Regions from separate parts of the Homo sapiens genome. Here all the other regions are linked to region 1. Evidence: fine-mapped expression QTL. A gene starts in region 1. Each other region holds a variant in brackets. All regions are shown on one strand. Distances are between the middles of the regions. Region 1 holds the start of EXOSC3 (exosome component 3). Region 2 has its middle 24 kb from the start of SLC25A51. Region 3 overlaps FRMPD1 (FERM and PDZ domain containing 1).

Region 1 (10,270 bases):
TGTACCGAACAAAAAAAATGATTTTGCAATGATTTTCTCTCCCACAAAAGCGTGGGTGAAAACCAGTAACTTATAAAAATACTTTCGGACTCTAATAATACATACATTCACACCTTATCTTCTGAGTATTTAAATGGGGGAGGTTCACCTGAAAAAACCCATAGTTTTTTGCCTCAACTGACCTGTAAAAAAGTCCACCTATATCAACTTTCTGCCAATCTGGAGAAGATCTGTTTTCTTTGATCTGACGTCATGTGTTCACAAGCTTCTAAAATGTTTGCCAAAATTAAAGTCTGCTGGATGGTTTTTGCCTTAACCCATATTCTTCCATTCATTCCAAATACTATCTCCAGTGGATAGAGTTTTCCCACTTCCTGTATGATTTCACAATCTGGAGCTAATAGCCTGGTGGGAAGAGAAAAGAAAATGAAATTTAATGAAGTGGCAAAGGTGTGTCCGGAGTCTCCTTTAGAATGTGATTCCTTTTCTGAGCAGTTCTCCATAGCTGTTCAACAAGAACAAGGCACGTGATGACATTTGCTGCCTCCTTTCTTCCAAGAAGGAACTTTACACTGTTCAAAGGTATACTAGAAATCACAGAGGTGGGCTATGCCTTACAAAGAAATCAAACTCCCTAGGTTACCAACTTTGTAAAAGTCATTCCCCTAGATGGTCAGAGCACTTTAATTCTAGACTGGGAATCATAACTTTTTTTATCTACAGTGTTAAGACACTTTAAACTTATTTTCCTGGCCATATTATTCTCTTGTGTTAAATTCAGTACTTGGAGAGGAACATTGGCTCTTTCAAACCATAAGGGTGGTGCTTGGTTAATAACATGCTTCTTGGTTAAAAACATGCTTCTCTGATGTCCAAACTTAATTCTCCAGATCTTTAGGATATGTAGTAAGGAGAGGCATACAAGATAGCTCTCAACTTCACTGGCTCTAGGAGTAAAGCCCCTGAATATGGCACAGCTTTGGGTGGGTAAAGTTCTAAACACCAAAAAGAGAATCTGCCTCAGCATGAACCTCAGTATGCCTCAGTATGACCAAGTGTCAGAAGCCTTCTGTGAATGTCTACATAACCTTGAACATCACAATCTAAGCTGCGTGTGACCCCCATAATTAGAAAAAATTGATAATTTTATACAACTGCAGACTGCATCTGTATTCAAGTGACTCAGAACAGGGGAAAGGCCAGTTTTCACATTTGGGCTAAGTCAAATAAGCAACAGGCCTGGGAAGGAAGATATGAATACAGAGTAAGAGCTTAAGGCATGAAGTATCAGCCCACCAGAAACTACACAGCCAAACACATCTGAATTTGATATGTTTCCAAGAAGATAGGATTAAATTCATGAGTTTCCAAATGTGTTAAAATGGATACTGATTTCTAACTCTGAGGAGAAATTCAAACGTTACAAAGAATCTGAATCCTGAAGATTAACCAACTTTCCAAGAATGTATAATTATAAAAAGCAGTCAAGCCAGCAGACATCAGGACTTACTTTCTAATTAAGCCCAGAGTCACTTTAAAAAGCAGACCATCCTGTCCAATGACACCCATTCCATTGGCTCGTCCACAGCTGTCAATACAGACCATCTCTGGTTCCATGTCTTTATTAGCAACCACAAACTGGCCATAGATGAGATCTCCAACCTACAATGATATTAAAAACCAGTTCATTTCCTCTCAGCAAACTACAGGTGCTACTATTGGTTCTTTCTCACAGGCATCAATGCCAGCCACCTACAGTTCTGTGGCTAAGGGACTGACTGCACTATAGGATTCCCACAGTCACTTTGGAGTTGAGTCTTGGGGAAAAAAAGGAACACATGTATCATTCCCTTTCACCAATCAGGAAATCACAGACGAGGAGCCATCTCAAGGCCAGAGAACACTAGGATTGCACTGTCCAATATGGTAGATAGCCAATTGTTTAAACTTACATTTAAATTAAAATTAGGTATTTAAAATTAATTTCCTGAGTTGCATTAGCCACATTTCAAGTGCTCAACAGCTAGTGGCTACCATACTAATCAGTGCAGATACAAAACAGCATCACTGTAGAAAGTTATATTAGGTCGCACTACCCTAGAGAATTACAGATTTACAGAGAAAGGAAGGAACTCCGGCATGCAAATTATTCAAAGCAAAATCAAACAATAATTCACTGACACTTCTCCCTGCAGGATTTACTTAAAAACCTCATAGAGCTAAACTTCAAAGGGACGAAACTGAGGAAATGGAGAGTGAACTCATTCTGTTCACTCAACAAAACGTATTAAGTACCTACTGTTTGTTGGTGACTATGTAAACTAGAAAGGAACAAAACATTCTCTGCTTTTCAGAAGCATTTGGTCTTGGAGGGCAGTGGGGAGGTACATATAAACAAACCTCAGTCAAGGCTCAATCCAGTAAGTGCTAGAGCAAAGATACGAGAAAAGTGGCAACTAGAGATGGCTTTACAGAGGTGGTCATGTTTAGCCTACGTCTCAAAGAATGAGAATGTGTTCCATAGGGTGCGAAGGGATAGTGCAATCAAGACAGTGGGAACAGCATGTGCAAATAAGGGCAGGAAATTGAGTTTAATGGCGTTTGGTGTGATTTGAGTATGGCTGTATGAAGGATATAATTAGGGATGAGGAAAGACACCTGGAGTGTAATGCCAAGGAATTCTGTAGATTTTGGAGAATCTTGTCTTTTCGAGAAAGTGACCGTGTGAGGATGTCAGCTCTCAAAATCCTGGATGGTGAGGTAAAAGCGTGGAGGCAGGGATTAATGAAGAAGTGACTGAGACCAGTCAAGAGGGAGCTGAAGCCTGAACTTGTGGAGATAAAGGGACGGACATGCCAAAGATCAGAGACAGAATCAAATAGGATCAAAATAGGATTAAGCAACTAAATTTGCATGAGAAGTGAATGAGAAGAGGTGAAGAAATCACTAAATTTCAGGCTGGATAGACAAGAAGAGTGTGGCTATGCTACCTGAAAAGCTCAAATTGAAAACCCAAGGTAACAATATTACTCCTCTATCAGCTCCTAGGACCTACAGCCAGGATGGATGGATAGCTGATAATGTCAATTTGCACCACCTGTCCCTCCTCTAAGCCTACAGCAGACATCCTTGTCCAGAGGATATGGACATAACAAATAATGGCGATGATAGATACAACCTTTCAACTCAGTAGAAATGAAACATCCCAAGAACAAATGTAGCCAATGTAAAATAAATTGTAAATGTAAAAAATAATAATAATAATTATGTGGCTCTGATCCTGGAGCATCTGAAGAAACTCTTGGAGCCTGGGGCAATTATATACAAGCTCAGAGATCTAGGTCATGCTTTGGAGACAATTCAGATAGCCTTCTGGATATGTGAGTGTTCTAGGGAATGGATGTTTGTTTCTTTGAAACCAAAGGCTCCCGTAATTACCTGCACATTTGGTCTGTTTCTTTTAGTTGCACCTTCAAATGACAAGTAAGACAAAGAAGCTGGCTCACTCCCTCCAACATCAACTTTGAATATATCTCCAGATTTAGCTGTCACTATGCCAATCACATGGTCTCCTTTTACTGGAACATACTACAAAAAGAAACAGAATGAAAAAACAGCCATAAATGACAAGATACCATTGGAAGATACCTTCAGCAAGTCCTTTGTGGTTACTTTATTGTCATTAAAGAGAAATCTGATCAAATGCCACTTTCGGTAAAAGAAAATCACTTCATAAAGTGCCGGGTGTGCAGCTTCTGGTAGTCTGTTAATTGAGTCCAAACTCCATTATCTCTTAGGCACCCCAACCAGTAAGTCTCTAGCTTTGTGGCATAAGTCCAGTGGCAAAGGAATCCTTACAACCAAGGAAGCCCATTCCATAGACAATTTTTTCTATATGAAATTCTTACCTGTTCTAGGAGAAATTAACTCCCTATGACATCCACTCATTGAGCCTAGTCCTGCCCTCTGAGACTCCAAACGGCAGGCCTGCTGTGGGGTTTTGAAGACTATAATCATGACTCACGGTCTCCAAACGTTTTTCTCTCCTGGTCGCCCTTCTCAGGCTATGTTCCTATTGTTCACGGTCCCTCTAAAGGACATGCAGAAGTGGGCACAAGACTACGGTGGCTCTAGGTTTGCCTGAACAAAAGAGGGCCTCAGGGTCCCTCTCTTCTTTTGGGAGGTCTTCTCAAAGCAGGGCTACCACTCTCACTGCCGCACCACCCCTCCGGAGTCCCAGCTCACCCGCTTCTGCTGAGAGTCCACCCAGTAAACACCGCCGCCGCTGCCACTGCCGGGCTCCTTGTGACGGAGGCGGCCGCACTTGGTGACCAGCAGGCGGTCCCCACAGCGCCGAAGGCCCGGACCGCATACAACGCGCACCCGCGAGCACGCTCTAGCATTCAGGCTCAACGGTCGCTCCACTGCACCCCCAGGGCCTTCCGCGTCCTCCTGTTCCGGCAGGAGCAGCTCCTCACCCGGGAGCACCACCTGACCTAGTACTGTGCGTGCAGCGCGCGCCCTGCTGCCCGCGAGAGATTCAGCCGCGACAGACGCAGGTTCGGCCATCGCGGGCTCCACCAAACACCGTTTCCGGTACCCGCCTTCCGCTTCCGCTCCGCTTCCAACACCCGCCCTTGAGGACTTTCCGTTTCCGGCAGTAGCGGTCCGTTGGATTCGGACCAGTTTATGAAGCTTGATGGCCGTCAGCTCACGGGTCCCTGTCCAAGGTGGCAGTGATTGTGGCCGGCCACCTATCTGACAGCCTGGCCGCGGGTCGGTATGAAAACCGCGCAGCTTGGTCCATCGAAAAGCCTCCACTTCCAGTGTCTCGGGTCGCGTGTTTTGTGACCGGTCGCATCGTGGGGATACGAGATACTTCCACTTAAGAGTTTCTTGGGATCTCTGGAAGCTGAGCAGAGGGGCTTTGAAAATTGGACGCTGGGGCCGGGCGCGGTGGCTCACGCCTGTAATCCCAGAAGTTTGGGAGGCCGAGGCGGGTGGATCATTTGAGGTCAGGAGTTCAAGACCAGCCTGGCCACCATGGTGAAACCCTGTCTCTACTAAAAATACAAAAATTAGCCGGGCGTGGTGGCACGCACGTGTAATCCCAGCTACTCGGAAGGCTGAGACAGGAGAATCACTTGAACCTAGGAGGCGGAGGTTACAGTGAGCCTAGATGGTGCCACTGCACTCCAGTCTGGAGGACAGAGTGAGACCCTGTCAAAAAAAAAAAAAAAAGGGAAATTGGACGCTAGGTGGGTTCATGGGACCTTCTTTCCGACTCCGCCCTCAGAAGAGTGGCTGACCTTTTAACAGGAAAAGTAGTTTTTTTCAAAATAAATAAAACCTTCTTGGTTGTTAGAGATCTAGTCACATTTAGAAAACACAGAGAAAAATAAAAGAAGAAAATAAACGATGTTTTAATCTTGCCCGTTTTTCTCCCTTGCTACACTGTAGTTCTGATTCTTTAGAGCCCAAGGTGTGGCATGAAATAGGTAATACCTGATGAATGAACGAATGTATTCCTTTGGTGTGTATTTCTCCCTAGACTTTTTCCCCCTGCAAATATACATATTTCACATGCTTCCGATAGCCCTACATGGCCTGGAATATCAGTAACTCAAATTTCCCTGGAGCACACTTAGTTGCGCACGTGAGAAGCAGTTGAATTCCAAACCCAAAGAGATTCCAATCATCTATCTGACTTTGGGGGTTCTATTTTAAATCACCGTTTTCTCTGTCAACTCGAACCTTCAATTAGTGCTTGATCAGATTCTCCAGCAGTGGTAGAATTCCTAGGGTCTGGGAGGCCGTGACTGACCGATTGCCTTTAGCGGCCCTCCCTTTCTACTGCTCATCTCTTTGAGGCACCTGCTTCCAACGTAATTTTTAGATTTTTTTTTTTAGACGGAGTCTCGCTCTGTCGCCCAGGCTGGACTACAGTGGCACCATCTCGGCTCACTGCAACCTCCGCCTCCCAGGTTCAAGCAATTCTCCTGCCTCAGGCTCCCGAGTAGCTAGGATTACAGGAGTGCACCACCGCACCTGGCTAATTTTTGTATTTTTAGTAGAGACAGCGTTTCACCATGCTGGCCAGGCTGGTCTTGAACGCCTGACCTCAAGCGATAGGCCCACTTTGGCCTCCCAAAGTACTGGGATTACAGGCATGAGCCACCAAGCCCGGCCGAATTTTTAGATTTTTTAGGATGATTAAGACAGATCATCTCTAACACACCCTCCAAATTTGGCAAGCCATTTTCCCCTGGGTATAAAAAAAGGTCAACAAATAAAAGGAGCTCCCACCTCCAGGTTAGTTTCCCTGGCAAGAGTGGGAGCTCCTGTGGCAGGGACAGCGTAAATTGTGCTCTCTTCCCCACTCCAGAAGTATTCGGTGACCACGCCTGCCTCAATCTTGGCAGGCCCAAGGCCATGGCTCAAGGGCGCTCAAGGACCTCACATTCCGGCCAGGCAAACAGGCAGGTCGGTAAATGTTCTCTGGACCGTCTTTGATACACCCCATGTCGGTAGTGAAGTCTCTGGAGGAAACTCGGCCCAGATCTAGCGGCTGAGTCCTATGAGGCCCACTACCCTGTGGAGGCCGCACGTGGCGAGCGGTGTAGCTCTCTCGCGGGTCAAGGCAGATGAAACAGGGAGGCCGGGACCCGAAGGCGGTGGCTGGGCGGGGCTCCACTCCTGAACACCTACCACCCTGACACGCCCAGAGCGGGTGGGGCACGCGGGACCGCAGCCTGCCCACCAGACCGCGCGCAACCGAGGAGGTGTTTCGCCACCTGGCGGTCTTGCGCCCTGTCGAGAGTGAGCACCCGGTCCTAGGCGGCGGGAGCCCTAGGCCGCGAACGAGTGTCTCGAACCCGGCTTCAAGCCGTCGAGGGCGCGCGGGTCGGTTCTAGCGTCCCATGGGTCGCGGTTCGCGTTTTCGGGCAGCGCGTGCCTCCTCTCCTGGTTATAAAAGTGGGAAAAGTGCAACGACTGGGGAATGCAGAGGAGGCCAGAGCCCGGTGCAGGCGGCGTGCGCGCTTTGCCCTCTGCGGGTGCGTGTGTTTCCTTGCCAATCGCGAGGTGGATTACGCCCGTTCTCTTCAGAGGCTTACTGGTTTCGAGCCGAAGCAGTCGAGACTGCTCACCTTTCCAGTGCCTCTGGCCTACGTCTCCCCATTCGGAGTGTAACCAGGCCCCTTGAGATTTAAGTAGTCTGGCATTTTTAGTAACTGAAGTATTGAAAATTCCGTTTGGTGTTTTTTTTTTTTCTGTTTTGTTTTGTTTTTTGTTTTTGAGGCAAAGTCTCGCTCTGCCGCCCAGACTGGAGTGCAGTGGTACGATGTCGGCTCACTGCAACCTCCACCTCCTAAATTCAAGCGATTCTCTTGCCTCAGCCTCCCAAGTAGCTGGGATTACAGGCATGCACCACCATGACTGGCTAACTTTTGTATTTTTAGTAGAGAGGGGGTTTCGCCATGTTGGCCAGGCTGGTCTCAAACTCCTAACCTCAAATGATCCGCCTGCCTCGGCCTCCCAAAGTGCTGGGATTCCGGACGTTAGCCACCGCGCCCGGCCGTAGTGAAAATTCTGATCAGGCCCTTGCCTGCATGCACATAGTAAGCGCTCCCGTTTTGCCCAATATCTCTTGTTCCCACAATATAATTATAAACTGCTGTTGTCCTGTTTCTTTGTCTAGCAGGAGAGATAACTTCAGGGTCATGAAAATATTTTGCAGAAGGAATGAATGCCATTAAGGACTTTTTGACCAGCTGCTGACACCCATAAGTCTGGTTGCTCAAAGTTTTATCTGAGACTGTAGAGGCACAGACTTTTCCCCTCTGTTCCCGGAAACCCTCCCTCACACCCTACCCCATAAAAACGCCTGCTGTCATCTCTTTGTTAAGTAACATTTGAGAGATCTTGCTCTTCCGCCTTCTTGCTTTGGCCCAATTGAACAAACCTTTCTCTATCTCCAAGCACCTGTGTCTTAGCGTTTGGCTTCAGCTCTGCATCAGGTACATGAGACTGAATTTGGGGTTACACAACATTAGTATGACATATGGGGAAATTGCCAAATTGACCTTTGGAAAGGTTGGACCAGAGTGTAGCTTTCTGGACTCCTCCCAGAACTTCCTCTTCATAACTAATCTTTGCTAGTTTAGAAGTTAGAAACGTGGCATCTCACGGTTGCTTTTCTTTACCGACTGGTGAGGTTGGGCATTTGTTCCTTTTAACCAACACTAGTTGAGCATTTGCTTTCAGCCAGGAATTGAGCTGGGGAGGCGGCTGAGTCCTGGTCCCTGCCCTTGGGGGAGTTCACTCTCTCCACATGAAGATAGCAAGTGTTAAGGTGGATGCAACAACCTGAATAGAGTGTCAGCCCTGAGGGTACAGAGGATGAAATAGTTGTCTCTACATGGAAGGAAGGCAGGGGTTAGGATAGGTGTTACAAAGGAAGTAATAATTTGAGTGAATCTTTAATATTTTTTACTTTACTAGTTTCTAAAATTATAAATGAACTACATGCTAATTTACATACTGAAATTAACCATAAAAGCCCATGAAAGTATTGTTAACATCTTTATTCAAATACAGGATTTAATCTAAAAACATAAATGCCCACAGTTATCACTGCACAAATGACAGACTACTTGCTACAGATATTTTTACACAAGGATCATAACTTCTCAAACAGGATTTATTGTAAAAAGTAAAAGAACACTTTTTTTTTTTTTTTGAGACGGAGTCTTGGTCTGTTGCCCACGCTGGAGTGCAGTGACTTGATCTTGGCTCACTGCAACCTCCGCCTCCCAGGTTCAAGCGATTCTCCTGCCTCAGCCCCGCAAGTAGTTGGGACTACAGGCACACATCACCACTCCCGGCTAATTTTTGTATTTTTAGTAGAGACGGGGTTTCGCCACATTGGCCAGGCTGGTCTCGAACTCCTGACCTCAGGTAATCCGCCCATCTCGGCCTCCCAAAGTACTGGGATTACAGGCGTGAGCCGCCACACCTGGCCCAGAACACGCTTTTTTCTTACCAACTACTGTTTTAAATGTATTAGCAATTCCATAAAATATAGTTTCCTCACCATCATTTCCCAAATCTGAACTACATTCTGTTGGCTAGATTCTTATGTGGAATAACATTCAAGTTTGGTCTTAGTGTATCACAATACAGGATTGATTTTAAATACTCAAAATTACATGGTTTTCTGGTTTCCAACAGCTTTGCCATTTATCTGCATTTCTTGAATAAGGAAACATCTTTCTAGTTCATGTTTATTTTCATTTTGTAGTGTGTGTGTGTGCCTGTGTCATGGCACCCTTTGTTAGAGAAGAGCCCCAACCTCCTAGAGAATAGCAAGAAATAACAAGACTCCAACGGAGACGACTAAGCAAGAAAGCAGGTTCACCAGCCACAACTCCATTGGTACCAATGTAGATGAGATTTGGTGGATCAGATGAAGAAATTTATTATTCAACACAGCATACAGTAGGAGTACCAGCAAGGTAGCACTGGTTGGCCTGTCCTCAAGTCCTATGGAGTAAATGCAATGGGCCCGGACAGTGGTTGCACATGCAGTGGTTTGCACCATGACTGAGGGATCCAGGGCTAAGGGCCTAGCATCTTTTGTAGCAAGTGGCAAACCAACCAGCCTCCTTCCCTGAGGGAGTGAGCTGTTGTATGGTAGTTATGCTGTGGTCATCTTAACCTAGTTAAATGCCGATGTGACTAGCTAGAAATGGTTCAGTATTAGGGGAAAGTTAGGCCTTGTGTTTGGCATACTTCGCAAGCACATGCAGAGATGCTCAAGGCCACAGCAAACTGCCTGTCCCAATAGAAGTCAAGGCCTGTCATCATCTGACTCTACCTTATCTCTGCAGTGTCATCTCATGCAATTTTTTTTAGTGATCTAAGTTTTTTATCATTCTGGACTATTCACCAAGGCCACTTTAGCTGTTGTATTCTTCTAGCTACTGATTCTCTCCTCTTATCTCCTGCCACACAGCAAGATTCCTGAACACAGACAATAACTGCTCAATAAATGTAAGGATGAAAGGGCCTGAAATTGTGACAACTACATAAGAAAACTGTGTGTCATGATGCTATTAAGGGACTGTATTCATTGAATTCCTTCTATATACAAGGTCCAGGCATAGATGGATCCATGGAAAAGCTTAAGATATCTTCATCAGTCAAGGTCTAATCAGAAGACAAACCATGCTCATTTGAATAAAGACAGTTTAATATATGAGGAATTATT
Region 2 (10,270 bases), 94 kb after region 1:
ATTTTTGTATTTTTAGTAGAGATGGGGTTTCACCATGTTGGCCAGGCTGGTCTTGAACTCCTGACCTCAGGTGATCCACCTGTCTCAGCCTCCCCAAGTGCTGGGATTTACAGGTGTGAGCCACTGCACCCAGCCTAATCCATCTTAATTTTTGATGCATTTTAAATTGCTGACATCTGTACCCATCCTTCTAAAAGTCCTCACATGACTAGAGTTTAACATTTGTTTTTTTCTTTTGTTGTAAAATTTACATAGAATGAAGTACACAGATTAACTCTACATTACTTAAATTTATATAAATGTATACACCTGTGTAACCCAAACATCTGTCAACATATAGAGTACTACCACCATCCCAGCAAGTTCTCTCCTGCCTCTTCCAGGTGAACCTCTGCCCCCATCCTCCCAGAGGGAAACACTGTTTGTTTGTTTGTTTGTTTCTGCTACAGATTTTCCTCTTCTAGAACTTCACGTAAGTGAAATTATCCATTATGTATTCCTCTTGATGATTTCTAAAAGAAATTCTTAAGAAATTAAAAGGGTTTCCGAAACAAGGAGAATAATTGATAAAGAAAATATCAGAGATCAGATTGATTACTTCATTAAATGTATTTATTATGAGAACCTCTAATCTGTGGATATAGAAATCTGAAAGACAGACCCTGCCCTCGAGGAGATCACATTGTCCTGGCAGATAAAGTACAAACATGCAGTTAGAGACAGGCAAGAAACAGTTATCACTTGGCACAGAAGGGGCCTAATCCAGCCTGGGAGGCGATGGAGAAATCAAGAGACATTTACATTTTCACTTTGGAACTTGTCTCGGGCAGCCAGTGCTCTTTATTTTCCATAAAAGTCTAGAACCTCTTAACTCAAAATGATTTGTCCTGAAATGGCAGTTTTACAACACTGAGTAGGTGTAACACAAACTCGCTAAATAAAATAAATGAGGAAAAACTGTAAAAGGCACAAACTGAAATTATTGGGGATTCTGTTTTCCTCTAGTTCGAGTTGAAATAGACTCAAATAGATGTGTTATTGCTCCCAAACACAAATAACATGCATTCCTGTTCTTGGATCACAAGTGGCAGAAGCTTTCAAGAGCTCTAGATAGCAACAGCAAAACTTTAATCTTCTTGGACTTCCCTTTAACCTTCTCAAGGTATATAAAACTGTTGCTGGTTGGGCATGGTGGCTCATGCCTATAATCCCAGCACTTTGGGAGGCTGAGGCGGGAGGATCATTTGAGGCCAGGAGTTTGTGACCAGCCTAGGCCAACATAGCAAGACCTCATCTCTACCAAAAACCAAAACCAAATCAATTGTATCTTCAAACTGAGGCCCTCATCTCCTAATTTTTTTTACTCTTTACTTCCATATTTTACACACAGATTACAAATGAAAGATCCTCAGTTTCCACCTGTACCCACTTTTTCCTACCTTGGTCCTTCTCAGAACTCTATCACTGTTATTTAATGAGGAGGTAAAGCCCGAGAAAACCTGGAAATTTGTTTAGCCACACTTTCCCCAGAAAACTGAGAGGGCTAAGGAAAATTCTGAAGCTTCTTTTGCCCAAGGAAACAAGAAAGCTACTTACTATAAACCACCCATTATAGATATGATGACCCTTGAAAGAGAAATAGTTTATTTTTCTTCGTATTGTCTGAAACAAGAGAGCATCTCAGTGTAACTAAATGCATTTTTTAGTGTACATCAGAAGGAAGTAATTGCTTAATAAAGAGGGCCTGAACTGAGTTTGTTTTATTTCTGTTGATCATGAAAGGTAGAGCAGCTGTAGAGGTGAGCTGCCCTAAAACAATGTAAACAAGTCACTGCCTTAATGGTGCTTCTAACAGTAACAAAGCAGTGCTCCATGACAAACTATTCTAAAGAATACTTTCTTCTTGCTCTTCCTAGTCAATTTCATTCAATTGAGCTCCACAATTCAGAAACAGTGCCAGGAGGGATAAGAAAAATGGAGTGCCTGTACCTCTGAATCCTGACTCATGCACAAGTGTTTTATCTCAAATTGGCTAGACATTTCTCAGAGTAAAGGATCGCTGGCAGTGTTTGGAAACTAAAGGAGAATAAAGAACAGTCTCATCAATCATGCAGCTAATGTTGTGGACTGAATTCATATATTGAAGCCCTAACTTCCAATGTGATAGTATTTGGAGGTGAGGGCTTTGGGTGGTAATTAGGGTTAGATGAGGTCATGAGAGAGGTGCCCATGATGGGATTAGTAATCTTATAAAGATAACTAATTTATAATTACTTATAAAGGGCTGAGATTAGAACTTTCTCTCCATTATGTGAGGGTATAGCAAGAGGACAGCCCTCTGCAAACCAGGGAGAGGGCCCTCACCAGGAACCAAATCTGCTGGCTCCTTGATCTTGGACTTCCCAACCTCCAGAACCATGAGAAATAAATGTTGTTTAAGCCAGTGGTCCCCAACCTTTTTGGCACCAGGGACTGGTTTTATGGAAGACAATTTTTCCACAGATAGGTGGAGCGACACAATGGTTTGGGGATGAAACTGTTCCACCTCAGATCATCAGGCATTAGATTTTCATAAGGAGTGCACAATCTAGATCCCTTGCATTTGCAGTTCACAGTAGGGTTTGCATTCCAATGAGAATCTAATGCTGCCACTGATCTGACAGGAGGCAGAGCTCAGGTAGTAATGCTCACTTACCCACTGCTCACCTCCTTCTGTGCAGCCTGGCTCCAAACAGATGGGTACCTGTCCGTGGCCCAGGCGTTGGGGAACCCTGATTTAAGTCATCCAGTCTATGGTACTTTGTTATGGCAGCCCAAGCTAAAACAATTCAGTACTTTGAGATCAATGTAAAAATTACCTTTTCCTTAAATGACCTCCATGACCCATTAACAAATGAAGGCTGACCTTCATTCGGTCATTTCATAGGATATTCCAGAATGCTGTGATACTGAATATCCATGTGTCCCATCATTCTTGATTCTTGGTTGTTTTTTTTTTTTTTTTTTTTTTGAGACAAGGTCTTACTATATTGCCTAGGCTGGACTTGAACTCTCAAACTCCTGGACTCAATAGATCCTCCTGCCTTGGCCACCCAAAATGCTGAGATTGCAGGCGTGAGCCACTGTGCCCTGCCAGGACTGGCTTTTTAAAGAGGCAACAGGGCCAGGCATGGTGGCTCATGCCTGTAATCCCAGCACTTTGGGAGGCTGAGGTGGGTGGATCACTTGAGCTCAGAAGTTTGAGACCAGCCTAGGCAACATGGTGAAACCCTGTCTCTACAAAAAATACAAAATTTAGCTGGGAATGGTGGCACACACCTGTGGTCCCAGCTACTGGCAATGCTGAGATGGGAGGATCGCTTGAGCCTGGGAGGCTGAGGCTGCAGTGGGCCAAGATTGCGCCAATGCACTCCAGCCTAGGTGACAGAGTGAGAATCTGTGTCAATAAATAAATAAATAAATAAATAAAGCAAGAGGTATCAAATATTCACAACAGAGATTTCTGCCTCTCAGCATGGGTGCAACTTTCATCCCACTCAGGATAATAGTGAGAGCTGAGGTACTGAACATTGCTAAAAAACTATGTGAGGGTAAAACAAAAGAGGTCTATGAATTGCTTGTTAGATAGGCCAGGAAAAGTCCTGCAATCTAAGGACCAGATTACAGCAGGAAATGCAGTCAGAATCACCTGGAAGGAAAAGCTGCAATCTCAAATAAAATTACCAGTTGCATTTTTCTGTTGTTACAGGAAGCAGGTATTAAAACTGCTTTCACCAGAAAATGTGAGGAGACAGCTTTCATTGTGCCCCAGTGTGAAATAATTCCAACTGAATGGTTTGCAGAAGAATACCAACTGGTTCTTCACTCGAAAGAAATCCTGGTGTCAAGGAAGGATGTGAGTTTTGCCCACCTAAAGTGGAGATGTTTTTCAAGGATGATGCCAATCATGACCCACAGTGGTCTAGGCAACAGCTAATTGCAGCAAAATTTGGCTTTGCTGCACTTGGTATAAAACTGAAGTGGATATCATGAGTCATGCCACATAGGCTGTTTTTGAAATCCCGGAGAAATCCCGGTTGCTCCCAGAACTGTACACCGGTTGATATGAAGATTGAATTTGGTGTTCATGTGACCAGCAAAGAAATTCTCACTGATGTTATTGATAATGACTCCTAGAGACACTCACCATCGGGGGAGCAAAGCCAATAGAAAGACAGTCTTTTAATCATACTTTTAAAAATGTTATTTTAAAAAAATAGAGCCAGTCTTGCCATGTTGCCCAGACTCAAGCAATCCTCCTGCCTTAGCCTCCCAAAGTGCTGGGATTACAGGCGTGAGCCACCACTCCTGGCTGAAACAGTCTTATCAAGGCTTCAGTGTAACTCCTGAAGGGTTCCAAATGGTAAGGAAAAACTTTGCGTGGGTTGTAGAGAGTAGAGTTGCTTTTGAAATCAGAAAGTCAGTGCAGTGTTATAGTATTGATGGGTTCTACTTCTGATCTTAATCACCGTGAAAAAAATCAAGGCCTGTGGAAATTTTGGCATTCCATGTAGACTTTGAGTAACATCTGCACATAAAGGACCAGAAGAAATGCTGAGGATTAAAGCTGAGTATGAAGGGGTGGCAGTCGTACTGTATTTGTGGCAGTGGCAGGCAGAAGCAATGGTTTGGGATCAGTGATGTTTGGGAACACTACACATCCAGTTATCTATTGTCCTCCCCTCACACCAGACTGAGGAGTTCAGGATGTGTGGTCTTCTCTGCGACTACTCAGTGGTCTCGGCTATTCAACCATACTTTCTCCAGAAGGATCAGCTCAGTTTGCTACTCAGATATTTGGATTAAACAACCATTTATTATGGGGCAAACTGCAAGCAAGCACTTTGAACACATGGATTTTTTGGAAGAAAGGTGACAAGAAAATCAGAGAAAACATCATTGCATTTTTAGGGGGAAAACTACAAATTTCTAATTTAGCTGCAGAAAAAATAATTAGAGAACACAAATAAAATGTACTAGTGAATACATGCTTCTCTAGACCCAAACAAAAACTATTTGCAACGTAATTAAAACAG[GT/G]TAAGTGCTGTGAAAAATAGAAACATGGTGACATAGAAGAGCCTGACGGGGGAACCTAACCGAGTCCTGAGAGTGTAAGCCAGCTTCCCCAAGGAAGTGACACTTCAACCGAGATCTGAAGGACAGCAGTCTATAAATGAAGTAGAGAAAGGCAGTGCTGAGGGCAGAGGGCACCTGCATGGGCAGAGGCTGGGAGCAAGATGAGTACAGCGTGCCCCAAGTAATCAGGAAGTGCCAGTGGCTGGAGTGCAGAGACAGCAGCGCAGTTTTAGCTAGAGATGAGAGTAAGGGAGGCAAGGGCTGGATCATCCTGTCTCCTGTAGGCCACAGCAAGATGTTTGGTCTTTATGGCAGAGGAAAAGCATTTATTGAAGTGACATTTTAAAAAATTACTGATGGCCGGGCACGGCGGCTCACGCCTGTAATCCCAGCACTTTGGGAGGCTGAGGCAGGTGGATCACTTAAGGTCAGGAGTTTGAGACCAGCCTGGCGCAAAACTGTCTCTACTGAAAAAATACGAAATTTAGCCGGGTGTGATGGCGGATGCCTGCAATCCCAGCTACTCCGGAGGCTGAGGCAGGAGAGTCGCCTGAACACAGGAGGCAGAGGGTGCAGTGAGCCAAGATTTCACCACTGCACTCCAGCCTGGCGACAGAGACCACGTCTCAAAAAAAAAAAAAAAAATTATTGACAATATGAAGAATAGATTGAAGGGAGATAGGAACTGAGATAAATCCTATTTTACCTTCGATTTCTACTTTAAAATCACATATACTCATTTGGACAAAAAATTTCCTAGTTGGGAACGTCAGATAAATAGATTTAAGGCAGCCGGCGCGGTGGCTCACGCCTATAATCCCAGCACTTTGGGAGGCCGAGGTGGGCAGATCACCTGAGGTTAGGAGTTTGAGACCAGCCTGACCAACATGGAGAAACCCCATCTCTACTAAAAATACAAAATTAGCCAGGCGTGGTGGCGCATGCCTGTAATCCCAGCTACTTGGGAGGCGGAGGCAGGAGAATCACTTGAACCCAGAGGTCGGAGGTTGCGGTGAGCCGAGATCACGCCATTGCATTCCAGCCTGGTCACAAGAGCGAAACCCCGTCTCTAAATAAAAAAGTAAATAAATAAATAAAAAGATTTAAGATGGGAACCAGTCTCTTGGGGATTGGGAGTGCTCTGTAGCTATGCAGAGATCCCCCAGGGCTGTTCCTGGTCACACCTACTCCTCACTCTGGAGGTCTAGAACTCTACAGTGGCTGCTATGGGTGGGTTAAAAGATTTCATCAGATGATGATTAAACACCCTTTTTATCAAATCTAAATGTACAAGTTCAGGATATTACACTTATTCTTTATGATGGATTTCAATCCAAAACAGGACTTTTAGAAGCAACTGCTCCTTTACCTTGCTGTCCTTATCAGGCAACCTCAATGATCTCTAAAGCCAGGAAACAACCTAAAACTTAACATGCAAATTCACAATGTGGCTAAAACTTCACACTCTCCTAACCAATGAGCTACAACAGAAAGGAGCAGCTCTGAAGGCAAAAGTAGATATAAAAAAAAAAAAAAAATGAAAAGCACAAACATCCAGACCATGTAACTTGGGAGTAAACATTGCATGAGGCTACTCTATTACAACAGAAAGTACTGATAAGCTAAACCAAGAAAGTTTAAACTCAGTAGAGAAGTGTATTAAATATGAGGAAGACCTTTAAGAAATAAAATGTGGCCAGGCACAGTAGCTCACGCCTGTAATCCCAGACTTTTGGGAGGCCAAGGTGGGCAGATTGCTCGAGCCCAGGAGTTCAAGACCAGCCTGGGCAACATGATGAAAATCTCTACAAAAATTAGCTGGGCTTGGTGGCACGTACCTGTAGTCCCAGCTACTCAGGAGGCTGAGGCGGAAGGATCGCTTGAGCCCAGGAAGTCAAGGCTATAGTGAGCCATGATCATGCCACTACACTCCAGCCCAGGCAATAGAAACCCTGTCAAACAAACAAACAAAAAGCTTTGCAGTTAAACTACCTGGAAAATAAAACTTATATGAAACCCCTCTTGACGAAATAAGATGGATAGACAAAGGAATGTTTTACCTGCAACATCCCCAGGTTAAGTTGCTAAAAGTCAAGGTAGTGTGCTAAATGTTTTCTGAATAAAAAGACTAACAGATCAATCTATCACTACCACAAAAAAGGAACGTGCCAGTAACAAGCAACTACTCAAGCATAAGAGAAGACCAAAAAGAGTGGGCTTAAAAAACAAACTTTATTCCAAATTATCAAAAAAAAAGTGTTAACTCTGAAACATTTAACAGATTTCATTTAAACTCATAGGGTCATAAAACTCAAACTATCAAACAAAAATAGCATTGTGCACTTAACCACTTTCAATAATGAACCTTCAAGAGGAAACATTTAGAGACTCCCACACAATTTGGGAGCCAATAGGCAACACATATTTAATATTAAGCAAAGACAGCATTAAAAACTAAAAATCCTCAAATTTCAAGAGAATACCTGTTCAAGTCTTTGATATACATTTGCACATGAGAAAAGAAATATTTTAATTTAAAAGAGACCAAGTCTGAGTGCTTATCCTTTCTTCAAATGTAATCTCCTGTCCACCCTTCATTTTATGACTGCATACGCCTCACTCTACTTCATCTACACTGAACCAGTGTTCGTTCAACATGATTGGCTTCACTCGAAGCCCTCTAGATCCCATTTCATATATCCCATCGACCACCATTATTCCCTTACATGTTTGCACAGCCTTATACTGAGCATTACATTGTAACCAAGCTTGGGAATTTCAGGTATCCAAAGGTAATTATATACACAAACGCTTCTGTTTTATTGCACAGTTCACAATATAGCTGGTGATTACACAACCAACCATGTTAAGATGAATATCGACTATTTAGACAAATACATCGATTTTGTCCCCAACCACAAATGAAACAAGAAAGACACACATATTCGCCACCATATCAAGGTTGTGTTTACTCTGTGGTGCAGTCCTGAGGGCTCATACCACTCTCAGTGTGTTCAATACGGAATCCATAACATTTCTGGTGGCATCACACATGAAGTATAGGACACAAGACCATAAGTGTCCTGCGCTCATGAGCCATTTGTGCCACAGACGTAACAGAAAGGCCACTTTTAAAGCTTTTCAGATATTCAATCACATTTGCCTTTTCAATTTTTTTTTTTGAGACAGAGTTTCACTCTGTTGCCCAGGCTGGAGTGCAGTGGCGCAATCTCGGCTCACTGCAACCTCCGCCTCCCAGGTTCAAGCGATTCTCCTGCCTCAGCCTCCTGGGTAGCCGGGATCACAGGCATGTGCCACCATACCCGGCTAGTTTTTTGTATTTTTAGTAGAGATGGGGTTTCGCCATGTTGGCCAGGCTGGTCTCAAACTTCTGACCTCAAGTGATCCACCCGCCTTGGCCTCCCAAAGTGCTGGGATTACAGGCGTGAGCCACCGCACCCGGCCTGCCTTTTCAAAGTTGTTACCACACTAGTTCACACTGAAGGTAAAAGCAATAGTTAGAATCTCTTATTAACAACACATTTTGACTTCAAGTTCAGACAAAGCTGTTGGTTACAAGTTCTGCTAAATTTTTTGTCAAATTTAAGAAGTCTATAGGACAACACAAAACCATCCCTGGTAATGTATTTGCAGTTTGGTCTTCAAAAGCTGTAAAGAGTGACAAAGAAATAAAAAAAAATACTGAGTTAAAACCATTAAAAATATTTATTAATAATTGTTTTTAAATGCCACTTATTTGAGACAGCAGAAACCAAAGCATTTTCTTTAGAATTCTCACTTAGCTTGTATTTCACAAAAGTGCTTTAGAACTCAGATTTCTACCACCTGTGTGGAGTGTAAAGACAAAAGGAAGCCCAACAAAACCAAAGGCCCAATGGTGTCTATTCCCAGGGCCAAGGTATAACCCCAGGCTAACCCACCTGCCCTGGGCTGAGTAGCTGCACACACCTGTGAGTGCTCAAAGTCACACGCATGATTGAGGGGGTCAGGCACCAAGGTGCCTTTATTTATTCATTTCTCAAACTCAATTCCCTTCAAATCCTGACTCGATTTAATAGGCCAATGGATGCTACTCATATTTATTTGGTGCCAAATTATTATTTTTTTAAATCCTTACATCTGCACCTTGAAAGCAAACTGCAATATCCAGCACAACATTGTCAGAGCTGCTGTATGGCTATTTAGCTTTATTACTGCCTGGCTAATGCTTAATACGCTTCATCCTTTACAGCTGGAAGAAGGATGGTCACTGTATTTAACCAGCCATAGTGCATTTAGAGGTCAACAGCTTTTATGGACTATTTGTCCAAGAACTTTCAGTAAACTACCAAGTTGAGGCCTTTATTTTGGTCAGTATGTATAAATATTCATATGCAATTATCCAGAAAGAAGAAAAACTGGTTAACAAGAAACCTACTGTCATGTCAGATGCTGGAAATCAATCTTTAGCTACATAATATTTACAGAAAGGGTTTTAAGATGCATAATCCACTTTTTCAGTCTGTCTCTTGTATTTCATTAGTCAATTGGAAGTGGCACAAGTTTCATCTGGAAAAAATATTTTCACCTTTTCTAATTCTTTTGACAAATAAGTTTTTGTCTGTTAAGGGATGAGAATGCTATTTGGCTATTACCTACTTTTAGAATTCAAACTAACCCTTCAAATGTCTTTATTTAGATCATATGCTCTCAAACTATCTTATTGTTTTACTGACACAATGGTAAAACTGGGTTCCCAAAATGTCAAAACCCTAATGGAGTCTCTATTTCCAAGAGTAAAATAAAAGACAGCTAACACTGTGAGGTGAAAACTATCCTGAGCCTTTTTTCCCCTCTCTTTAACATTTAGAAACTAGGGGGAAAAAAGTGGGATTGCATTAATAGACTTCCAAAACAAAATGTTATGGAAGTGTTTATTTTTTAAAAGGAGAGTTTTAAGAGAACAGGATGCTTGAATATGACCAACTCCCACTCAAGGGGAAAAATAACCACAGGCCTTTGCTGAGATGGCACCAGTAATTCAAAGAAACCAAGCTAACCAGAATTTGATCCACACACAAAATGAAAACTTGTTAACAGGATGGAACAACTATAACAAGATTCAAGTCCCTTCATCTTTTGGCAATGAAATAAG
Region 3 (10,270 bases), 49 kb before region 1:
CCCAAGGACCCCCTGGACCTCCTGAAAGAAGACCCCGTGGCCTTTGAATACCTCTATCTGCAGGTGACTGGGTCTGTGCTTCCTAAAATAACAGTGGTTGTTCTCAAAGATGGTGCACTGGGTGATTTTGAACGTGAGCTCGAGGCCATTAAACAACTCCCTGGTAGGGATTCTCTTTATCTGAAGGAGAATGGGCCTGATCATCGCTCAGAATTCCCTTTTCCATCACTGAGTTGCTGTTTTAGCAGGTGTGCGATATCAGAATGAAATTCAGGCTCAGTCCTCAATGTAGATGATACATTTTCTAATACCATTTTAGGATCTTTAGAATTACAGTTTTTATTGCCAAAAGGGGCCTTAGTGCTTTAAAACCTCGTTTTAGAATGATGACACTGAGTCTTGGAAAGGTCGTGTGATTTGCCTGGGTCACTCACTTAGTGGCAGAGCCAAAACCTGGTTCTTGATCCGTGGCCTGGTGCTCCCCCTATTCTACCTCCTTAGATGAGAGTTATGATGCCATTTTTATTCTGATGAAAAATAATCATTTGGAGCCGGGTGCGGTAGCTCACGCCTGTAATGTCAGCATTTTAGGAGGCCGAGGCAGGTGGACCACTTGAGGTCAGGAGTTTGAGAACAGCTTGGCCAACATGGTGAAACCCCGTCTCTACCAAAAATACAAAAAATTAGCCAGCCGTGGTGGCACACACCTACAGTTCCAGCTGCTTGAGAGGCTGTGGCAGGAGAATCACTTGAACCTTGGAGGTGGTGTTTGCATTGAGCCAAGATCATGCCACTGCACTCCAGCCTGGGTGACAGAGCGGGATTCTGTCTCCAGAAAAGAAAAAAAAAAAGAAAAAGAATCATTTGGCAGATATCACCATTTTACAGATGAGATAACTCAGACTAGGTGGATTGGACTGCCCCAAGTCTTACAGAAATGGTGGCAGAAAATAATAATAATAGCAATAACAACGCCATCAATACTTTATATTTGTATAACACTGTGTGCCTTATACCTGCTTTCATATGCATTATCTAATTTAAGTCTCACAGAAACCACATAAGGTAGATTTTACTATCCTCATTTACCAGACACCAAATGCTTGGAGAGTCTTGGTAACTTAACCAAGGTCACACAGCCAAGAACTGTCAGAGCCAGCTCTCAAAGCGGAGCTCCTGGTCCTGCTGCCTTTCACCCGAGAGAACGAGGGGACACAGTATGTCTGCTTTTGTTTCCCATCTGCTCTATTTAATCTCTTCTAGAGCTGCAGCGATGTGCTCCAGGAGCGCTTTGCTGTAGAAATGAAATGTAGCTCTGCACTCCGACTCGCGGCTCTGCACATCCAGGAACGGATCTACGCCTGTGCCCAGCCACAGAAGATCTCTTTAAAGTATATAGAGTGAGTGGCAGGGGATGGCAGCTGCATTGCATTTATAACTTGCTGGCCCCTGGCCAGGAGGGCCAGATGCCACAGAAAGCTGATAGTCACCCACCTACCCATCTGTCTGTTGTCTTTCCATCCATTTCCCTCTGCACCCTCTCTAATCTGACCTGGCTCCCCCAGATGTCTGAACCTGGCTGCTCTCTCTGGGACAGAAGCCAACTCCAGATGGAATGTCACAGGATTCCCTTGTAAATTGCCTGTTCCTGGGAAGATGTCTTGGGAAATCAGTTGCCAGCATCAGTGTTAAGCTTTTCTAGGGGTGGGAATGCCTTGGAAGTTAATTTTTCCCGTGGATATGAACCAGTTCCTATTGCATTATGTCTCCACTAGAGCAGTTTCAAGTCCTACGATTCCAGCACCTTCTGATTCTTAGCTTAGAATTGTTCTGGACAGCATCACTCAGGTTTGCTAAGCCCCTCCCCAGATCTCAGCTCTGTCCTGCCTGAGCATCAGAATCAGATGGGGAATCATATTTTTAAAAATACAGCATATCCTTGGCCCTACCCCTGATGTACTAAGTCCAATCTCTCGCAGCAGGGCCTGAGAATCTGTAGTTTTAGCAATTTTCTGGGGGATTTTGAAGCTGCTAGGCTGGCACCATGCTGAAGCTTAGCCTAGGGGATTCACAGGAGCTCTGCGTTGCCCCATGAGAGTGTCTTGTACTCTCTTGTATGCTGTCATTATTTGCCATGTATTTTGTAGTGAAAAAGATTCAGAACTCCTGCTCTGACTGATAGATGGTCACACCACACCAAGAGTAATGAGCTCCCAGAATGATCAATGGGGTTTAGTTCCTGAATGCCTGTGGGGATTTTTGTGGAGAGTGTGTGTATGTGTGTGTGAGAAAGAAAAAGAGAGGAGGAGAAAGTGGCTCGTAATTGCTGTATTATGGGAACACTAAGTACTGAATCAAATGTAATTATGCTCTTCATTAGAGCCAAGTACCCTGTAGAAATGGGCCTCCTTGTCTCCAATGTCTCATGGCAGGAAAGACTGGGGAATAGAGAACTTTATATCTCCAACTTTACTCCGAAACATGAAAGGCAAAGACATCAAGAAAGCCATTAGCTTCCACATGAAGAGGAACCAGAATTTGCTGGAACCCCGACAGAAGGTAATGAAGGTGCCTCTGCCGACCCACTCAGCTGTCGTCTGTGAAACCTTAGGAAAAACATTTTCAACACTGCCTGGATTTTAGACCAATGAATAACTCTGACTTCAAGTGTTTTTTTTTCTCTATTAAGCAACTTATTTCTGCTGCCCAGCTACGTTTAAATTATCTACAGATCCTCGGAGAACTCAAGACATATGGTGGAAGAATCTTTAATGCTACTTTAATGGTATGTATTAGAGAACTGTGAAATCCTACTCACGTAAGGGACCTTAGAGATCCTCTGAAAATCAATGTGTCTTTTAGCCTAAAATTCCTGAGGACTCTGTCATGTACTAGAATTTGTCTGGTAAACTAAATAGTACACCACTGGAAAATATTTACCACGCGTTTGCTTGGTGCTACCCCTGTGATAGATGCTAGGGGAAGCAGGGCTGAATAAGATGTGATTTCCGTCCTTGAAGGATGAAACAAGCTACCCAACAAAATGAAGCAAAGCCATGAGACAGGTTCAGGCCTATTGCTGTGGAGTTTGGAGACAGAAGGTAGCACTGCTTGCTTCAGGGTAAGTATAGGGAGGAGAAGGGGTTAAGGAAAGAGGCAAGAGGAAGCCTGAATTTGGCCAGACTTCAGTAGAGAGGAAAAGGCATTCTGGGTCAGAAGGGGATGGTAAGCAGTTCACTCTGGAGCTTTGGGTATATGAAGGTGAAGAGGAAAATTGGAAATCATGAAAGAAAAATAAGAGTGTTTGACTGCCAAGCTGAGTCTCTGATTGTTCAGAAGGGAGGAATGAGGGGTGGGCCTGAGAAGAGAAACGAGAAGCAGAAAAGCCCTCTGCTCTCTTCCCATTCTCCTGCCTGCTTCTTTTTGGAGCCTAGGCCTAGAGCTTGTGCCTTTCAGCAGTCAGTGTCTCGGGGGTATGGTTTCAGAGAGCTTTCCTCCAGCACTGTCAGCCCCAGGACTCTGCAGCACAAAACCAATTTACAATTAGAGTGGGGTTTTAAAAAAATATTAACCAAAATCCTTTCAAAAGATTTGGTATGCATCTCAGTCATTTACAGTGATGGGCCAATGTAATCAGACTGCTAACCTAACAATGTAGATGGAAGAAGAGAATCAGTGTTTTGAAAGAAAGGAAGAGCATCAGATAGTTAGGGGAAGGGGAAACACAGATGGATTCTTCGTTTAAGTAGAAGACCCAAAAGGTGGGAAAGAGACTAGATCACAGAAAGGAAAGTTTTGAAGGTACAAGAAAAACTTCCCAATTTTTCTAAGGGCTAATTCTACCCTCTCCCAGCTGTCCAGTTCCAGTCCCCAGTCTCCCTTTACCTTTCTTGTCTAAGGAAAGAACTGGTAGTGGGAGAAGCAACCAGCTACATGGAACAGGTTCAGGGTGCTTGCTGGGCACTGCGGGTTACAAATAGAGATAAATGCAGACTCTGTTGTCAAGAAACTTAATGTGGAAAATGAGACTTAATACAAATAATTAAAATAAGAAGTCATAAGTGTTCAGTGCTAGTAGAGAAGTAAGAGGAAGTGGTACAGAACAACAGAGAGGAAAGGGAGATTTCTGGCTTAAGGAGGCTGAGATCAGGCAGATGCTTTCCATAGGCAGTAGGTTTTGATGTAAGCTTTTAAAGAAGGATCAGGATTTAAATGGGAAATGATGGCAGGGAAGGGATTCAAAGAGCAGGAAGATAGGTACATAGGTGTGAAAATACAGATGTGTTTATGGCTGTGGCTCAGGGCTATATTGGAAAGAGTTTTGGGGAAATAAATTTACACTTTGATTTAGCTGTTGATGGGGTCCAAGTTAGGCAATAGTCTGGAGGAGTGGTGGTTAGGATCCAAAGTAGGAATCAAGGAGTTTGCAGCGAGAGGTATTATTGCTTACATGTGAAATGTATTTTCACTCGCTTGCGAATGGAGACTAATTCCCCTTCCACCCTCTGCAGTTACAGGATAGAGAATCCTACATTGCCCTTCTAGTTGGAGCCAAGTATGGGATTAGCCAGGTTATCAATAGCAAACTCAACATCATGTCCACATTGGCAGAGTTTGCAAACATCAGCCGTGTAGAGCTAACGGAAGAGTCTGAGAAAGTGAGCGTCGTCAAAGTGTATCTTCAGGACGTCAAGGTAACACAATGGGGAGAGATTCTGAATTCAACTGCTGGAATTTGGGGCCAAATAGGGGCCAGGCTAGTTTATATGAATTTTAAATAATAATAAAGTCTAATGTCCAATATCTGCTTAAGAGGACGAATTGTCCATCCTGTTCTATCAAACGGAAAGTGGTAAATGGTAAATTTTCCTGAAGAGGTCCTAAAAGGTTTTTTTGCACAAACTGAGATGGACCATGTGCTTTCCTGTTGGATTTAGAAACGTAGATGGAGAACACCAGAGGATTTTTTTTTTTTTTTGAGACAGAGTCTCACTCTGTTGCCCAGGCTGGAGGGCAGTGACACGATCTTGGCTCACTGCAAGCTCCGCCTCGTGGGTTCACACCATTCTTCTGCCTCAGCCTCCCAAGTAGCTGGGACTACAGGCGCCCACCACCATGCCCGGCTAATGTTTTGTATTTTTTCGTAGAGATGGGGTTTCACTGTGTTAGCCAGGATGGTCTCGATCTCCTGACCTCGTGATCCACCCGCCTTGGCCTCCCAAAGTGCTGGGATTACAGGCGTGAGCCACCGCGCCCGGCCCACCAGAGGATTTTATCACATGAATGGGACCAGATTGCTGCTCAAAAGCTTTGAGTGGTGGGCATTAAAATGGGTAAATAGTGGGCCCGGTGTGGTGGCTCACGCTTGTAATCCCAGCTACTTGGGAGGCTGAGGCAGGAGAATCACTTAAACCCAGGAGGCAGAGGTTGCAGTGAGCAAAAGATTGCACCATTGCACTCCAGCCTGGTGACAAGAGCAAAACTCTGTCTCAAAAAAAAAAAAAAAAAAGGTAACTAGTGCAGGGTACCTCCTGAGCCTCTCTCAAAGGTCTTACTTTTATTCTGCCCTCCTTTGATTTAATCCCAACATACTCAATATTGGTGCTTTATTCTTATCACCCTCTCCCTCATTCTCCACATGTTCTTGCTCCTTTTTCTTTTTTAAGTTCAGTCTTGCAAGTCCCTCTGCAGGAATGAACAGGGTGGGATGGGGCAGTTTGGATATGGCGCTGGGGTAGAGGATGAGGAGTCAGAAGACACTGTATAGATTGGGTGGGAAGGACCCACTGTGTGTGAGTGAGTGTGTGAGTGCGTGAGAGTGTGTGTGTGTGTGTGTGTATGTGTGCGCACACACACACGCGATGGTGTCTGTACGAGTACATGCATGTCCTCATTTAAAGCCTTGCAAGTGAGGATATGGGGCACCAGGAGACCTACCTGTGGACCATGGCCGGATTTACCTGGAATCTCTCGTTGGTCCCACATGGCTTTGTTGTCAGTCTTCAGACTGTCCCTTGGTCCTTGATAAACATGAGATTTCTATTTGCTTTCAAAGGTTCTGACTTTGCTGCTGGAATCCAACAGTGCAAAAGACCTAGCCTGCCTGATTGCTGGGTACTACAGGCTGTTGGTTGACCCAGTTACCTCCATTTTCCTCTGGCCTGGAAACAAACAACAAGCGCACCGGGTATCTGCAGAAGAAGGTGAGGCACTGAGTCTTGCCCCAATAAGGACAGGCCCCTTTC[A/G]CTGGCCTTGTAGGTAAGGGCAGCCTAAAGGGAGGTGGTGAATTGAATTGAGCCGAGGCTTCAGCTCAAGTGGATGAGAGCTATTTCTCTGTTTATTTCCTAGTAAACAATTGATCTTTCATAAATACTAAACAAAGAAGCTTTCTTTGTATCTGAAATTTTCCTGAAACCAAGGAATGCTGTGGAAGAGCTCTAGTTCCCTGCTGTATTTCCTAAGATTGTCTCTCAGATCCACTGCATTTTATCATTATTTCTCAGCCAGGCATTGTGGCTCACGCCTGTAATCCCAGCACTTTGTGAAGCTGAGGCAGGTGGATCACCTGAGGCCAGGAGTTTGAGACCAGCCTGGCCAACATGGTGAAACCTCATCTCTACTAAAAATACAAAATTAGCCGAGCATGGTGGCACATGCTTGTAATCCCAGCTACTTGGGAGGCTGAGGCAAGAGAATCGCTTGAACCCAGGAAGTGGAGGTTGCAGTGAGCCGAGATCGTGCCATTGCACTCCAGCCTGGGCAACAAGAGCGAAACTCCATCTTAAAAAAAAAAAAAAAAAAAAAAAGATTATCATTATTTCTCATCAAAAAGAGATGTCACTTATTTGTTCAGGAAGTAGATGACCTGGCTTCTCTTCCTTACCTATGCACTCTTTTGCAATCTCTTGAAGTATAAAAGAACTTCTCTGCAAGGCAGGTAAGACAGTTTCCTAGGCCAGCTCCCAGTTTCTGCCAGGCTTTTGCCTCAGCACCATTGATGCAGCATGAACCTAGGGCTGTGCTGATAAATGCTTAACAACTCCCTGCAGAGGGACAAAAACAGTTTGAAGGAATTGCCCAATTCCATGGTGTCAACATTCTCACGATGGGTAATTTCAGGCTACCACGATATGATGATACCATGATGAATGTGGAGATGGGAAGAGGTGATCAATAGCACACCACTGTAGAGTGTTTCCTCTATATGGATAAAGTAGAAATCAGCTCAAGAGAATAGGTACTAATACAATAAGTAAAACAGTTAGAAAGTGATGAGTTTGGAGTATCTGTTACCTTTGTTTTTATTTTTATTTTTTTTAGAGGCAGTCTCTCTCTGTCACCCAGGCTGGAGTGCAGTGGTGCAATCTTGGCTCACTGCAGCCTCCACCTCCTGGGTTCAAGTGATTCTCCTGCCTCAGCCTCCCAAGTAGCTGAGATTACAGACACCTGCCACCACGCCCGGCTAATTTTTGTACATTAGTAGAGATGGGGTTTCGCCATGTTGGTCAGACTGGTCTCGAGCCCCTGACCTCAAATGATCTGCCCACCTTAGCCTCCCAAAGTGCTGAGATTACAGGCATGAGCCACGGCGCCCAGCCTGTTACCTTTGTTGTTACACAATGTATTTATGAACGAGGGGTGACTCCTCAGAGTCTGCTCAGGGAGACAACGCAGAGTGGCAACAGGGCTGTTGTGGAGGGGTTGTGGGGGGGACTGCTGCTGCCTGTCAGAGAAAGTTCTCTAGAGGAAGAGGTATTGGAAATAGATCTTGAAGAACATGCTGGAGTTAACCAGGCACGGAAAAGGAAGACAGATCATTCAAGGCCGAGGGGGCCTGGAGGAATGACCCGAGGAAAAGGCCATGACCTGAAAGGAGCTCTCCCTATGGGTGGCTGGAACGTGGCAGGGAAGGCTGCCATGGGGGACTGGGTGCCTGAGGAGGGGCTGGACCATATTGCAAGAGGGGAAAAGGGAGATGGTGAAAAGAGATAGGAGCCCCACCACGAGAAGGGCAGCTAGACTACAGAGGAGACCTCAGCGCCATTCTGTGAGGGAGACACTAGACTGAAGGGGAGGTGTCAAGACCATCCTGTCGTGGGTACTAGACTGCAGAGGAGGGTTCAGGGCCATCCTGGGAGAGGGGGAAGAGCCTGCAGAGGAGGCCTTAGGGCCATCCTTTGAGGCAAGGGAGGACTAGACTGTGCATGAGGCGCCATGGCCATCCTGTGAGAAGGGCAACAAGGCCATACTGTGAGAGTCTGTAACTGTTGTGGGGGAGGCCAGGCTCTTCCCCGTAAGCAGGGCAGCCATCAGAGGGTTTAAGCAGGGTGTGATGAGGTCAGAGAGAAGTTTGAGAAAGATCACTCTGGAGGCTTACAGGAATAAAGAGATTGCAACCTGGCTCAGTGCTCCCCAGCCTCCTACCATTAATCCTTCCTGAGAACCTGCCGCTGGATGAGTTTTCACTGTCCTACAAAGCCCATAGCACCCATGGATCCAGAAGGCCAGGCTTTAGAATGGTGCCAGCCTAGCAGCCTCGTACTCGTCATAAAATTGCTAAAAATACAGATTCTCAGGCCCCACTTCTAGCGATCTGACTCAGTACATCAGGGGTAGGGCCAAGGATCTGTTGTATTTTTAAAATATGATTCCCCATCTGACTTTGACGCCCAGGCAGGATAGAACTGAGGTCTGGGGAGGGGCTTAGCAAACCTGGGCAGTGCTGCCCACACAAAGAGGAATCAAAGTAAATACCACATTTCCATGAACAGACAGTTCTCCTTGGAGGTGGGGATGGAGTTAATCCAGCCTCCTTTAGCTCAGAGAGATGTGGGACAGGCGGTCTGATAGCATGGGGAGAACATGGAAGCTGGAGTCCCTCGGATCCCGTGTTCGTCAGTATAGGACGGTCTTAGGCCAGCCACCCTCTGGCCCTCAGTTTTCTCGTCTGGCAGGGTTGGGTGGGGGTCAGGGGGCTAGAAGGACACATAGGTAGGAGAATTCTGTTGTGTAACTGTTGCTGTACCCTGTGTTGCAGGCTATGAATCCAGGGCCTGCAGTGACTCAGAGGAGTCCTCTGAGGTGGACTGCGTACTCGAACCTCTCTCTGACAGGCGCCTGGTGAAACTGGCACCCTGCAGATCACTCATAAAGGAGGAGCAGCCTCCTGGGAACAGCCCCACACCTGAGGTGGCTAGGAGGGGCCCCAGCACCTGCGGGGCCAGCAGCACGACAGACAGTGCCGAGTCCGAGGCGTCCGACTCAGCCAACACTGAGAGCCGCGGCTACAGGACCAGTGGCTCGAGTGAGTCCATGGACGCTCTGGAAGAGGATGACTTAGACACCTGCTCCTCCAGCAGGTCCACCTTCTTCCACTTTGGCTCGCCAGGCCTCGCAGAGAGCATTGACTCTGACAGCCAGGAGGAGAGAAGCGGGATTGAAACCAGTGGCTTCCTCTGTCTCCTGGACCTGGCCCAGAGAGCCAACCCCCAGTGCCAGAAGACAGAGTTTTCCGAGAGTGCTGCTTTGGAGACATTTGGCTGGGCACCAGAACTGAGCACAGTCAGGCTGGACCCCAGGCTGTATGAAGGCAGCCACGCTGACTACTACAGCCTGTGTTCCAGTGTCTCCCCGGCCAGCTACCTGAGTGACAGTTCCGAGAGTACAGCTTCCCGGCAAGGGGGAGCCCCGCCAGCCTGGGGTCAGCAGGGCTGGACTGAGGCCCAGCCCAGTTCCATGCTGGAACCCCTGGCCCTGCACCCACCACTGGCCTTTGAGGATGGCAGCTCAGATGAGGAATACTATGACGCGGCTGATAAGCTCACTCCCCCAGGCCCCCCGTCAGGTGAGCCGTCCCTTGCAGGTCTGCAGACACGGCAGGCAGCTCCTGAGTGCCTCCCGGGGATCAAGGCCTGGGGCCAAGCTTGAGAGGAAGGCACATGAGTGAAACAGGGTCCCTGTACACTTCTGAGGAGGTAGATACAGATTCCATGGACCAAATTTTAGGCATCGTGGCAGGCCTGCAAGGGAGGTTCAGACAACTGTGGCAAGCAGATGGGAGGGATTCATCCAACAGTGGGAATCAGGGAAGGCTTCCCAGAAGAGGGGGCAAATGGGCTGGGCCCTGTGGGAGGGACAGAATTTACAAAAAAGGAAAGGGCTTGACAGGAGTGCCCGGCAGAGCGAAGTGGCTATGTCATCACTGATCCTGAGGCTGCATTAAAGGAGGCCTTGAAGCAAGAAGAACCAGACAGACAGGCCGTCTGTGGCC

Evidence for each region. PIP is the estimated chance that this variant, and not a neighbour inherited with it, causes the effect.
Region 2: its variant is the best candidate, but not a certain one, in a credible set for the expression of EXOSC3 in aorta (GTEx, PIP 0.55).
Region 3: its variant is the best candidate, but not a certain one, in a credible set for the expression of EXOSC3 in transverse colon (GTEx, PIP 0.66).

What each region holds. Positions count from the first base shown.
Region 1 is chr9:37,780,476-37,790,745 of GRCh38, forward strand. EXOSC3 (exosome component 3) reads right to left here and starts at 4,589. Exons shown (of 4, transcript NM_016042.4): 1 at 4,246-4,589; 2 at 3,439-3,588; 3 at 1,511-1,662; 4 at 1-405. The coding sequence starts at 4,569. The coding sequence ends at 204. LOC105376037 (a long non-coding RNA gene) reads right to left here. Exons shown (of 3, transcript XR_929599.3): 3 at 8,571-10,270. RefSeq lists enhancers at 4,272-4,331, 4,329-4,844, 4,342-4,481.
Region 2 is chr9:37,874,565-37,884,834 of GRCh38, forward strand. It overlaps a transcript of SLC25A51 not described here and the pseudogene PAICSP1. Among named protein-coding and RNA genes, the nearest start is that of SLC25A51, 24 kb to the right of the region's middle. The variant GT/G (reference allele first, on the strand shown) is at 5,076.
Region 3 is chr9:37,731,041-37,741,310 of GRCh38, forward strand. FRMPD1 (FERM and PDZ domain containing 1) reads left to right here. Exons shown (of 16, transcript NM_014907.3): 9 at 1-63; 10 at 1,264-1,400; 11 at 2,433-2,559; 12 at 2,690-2,785; 13 at 4,512-4,694; 14 at 6,056-6,203; 15 at 9,038-9,844. Among named protein-coding and RNA genes, the nearest start is that of TRMT10B, 18 kb to the right of the region's middle. The variant A/G (reference allele first, on the strand shown) is at 6,246.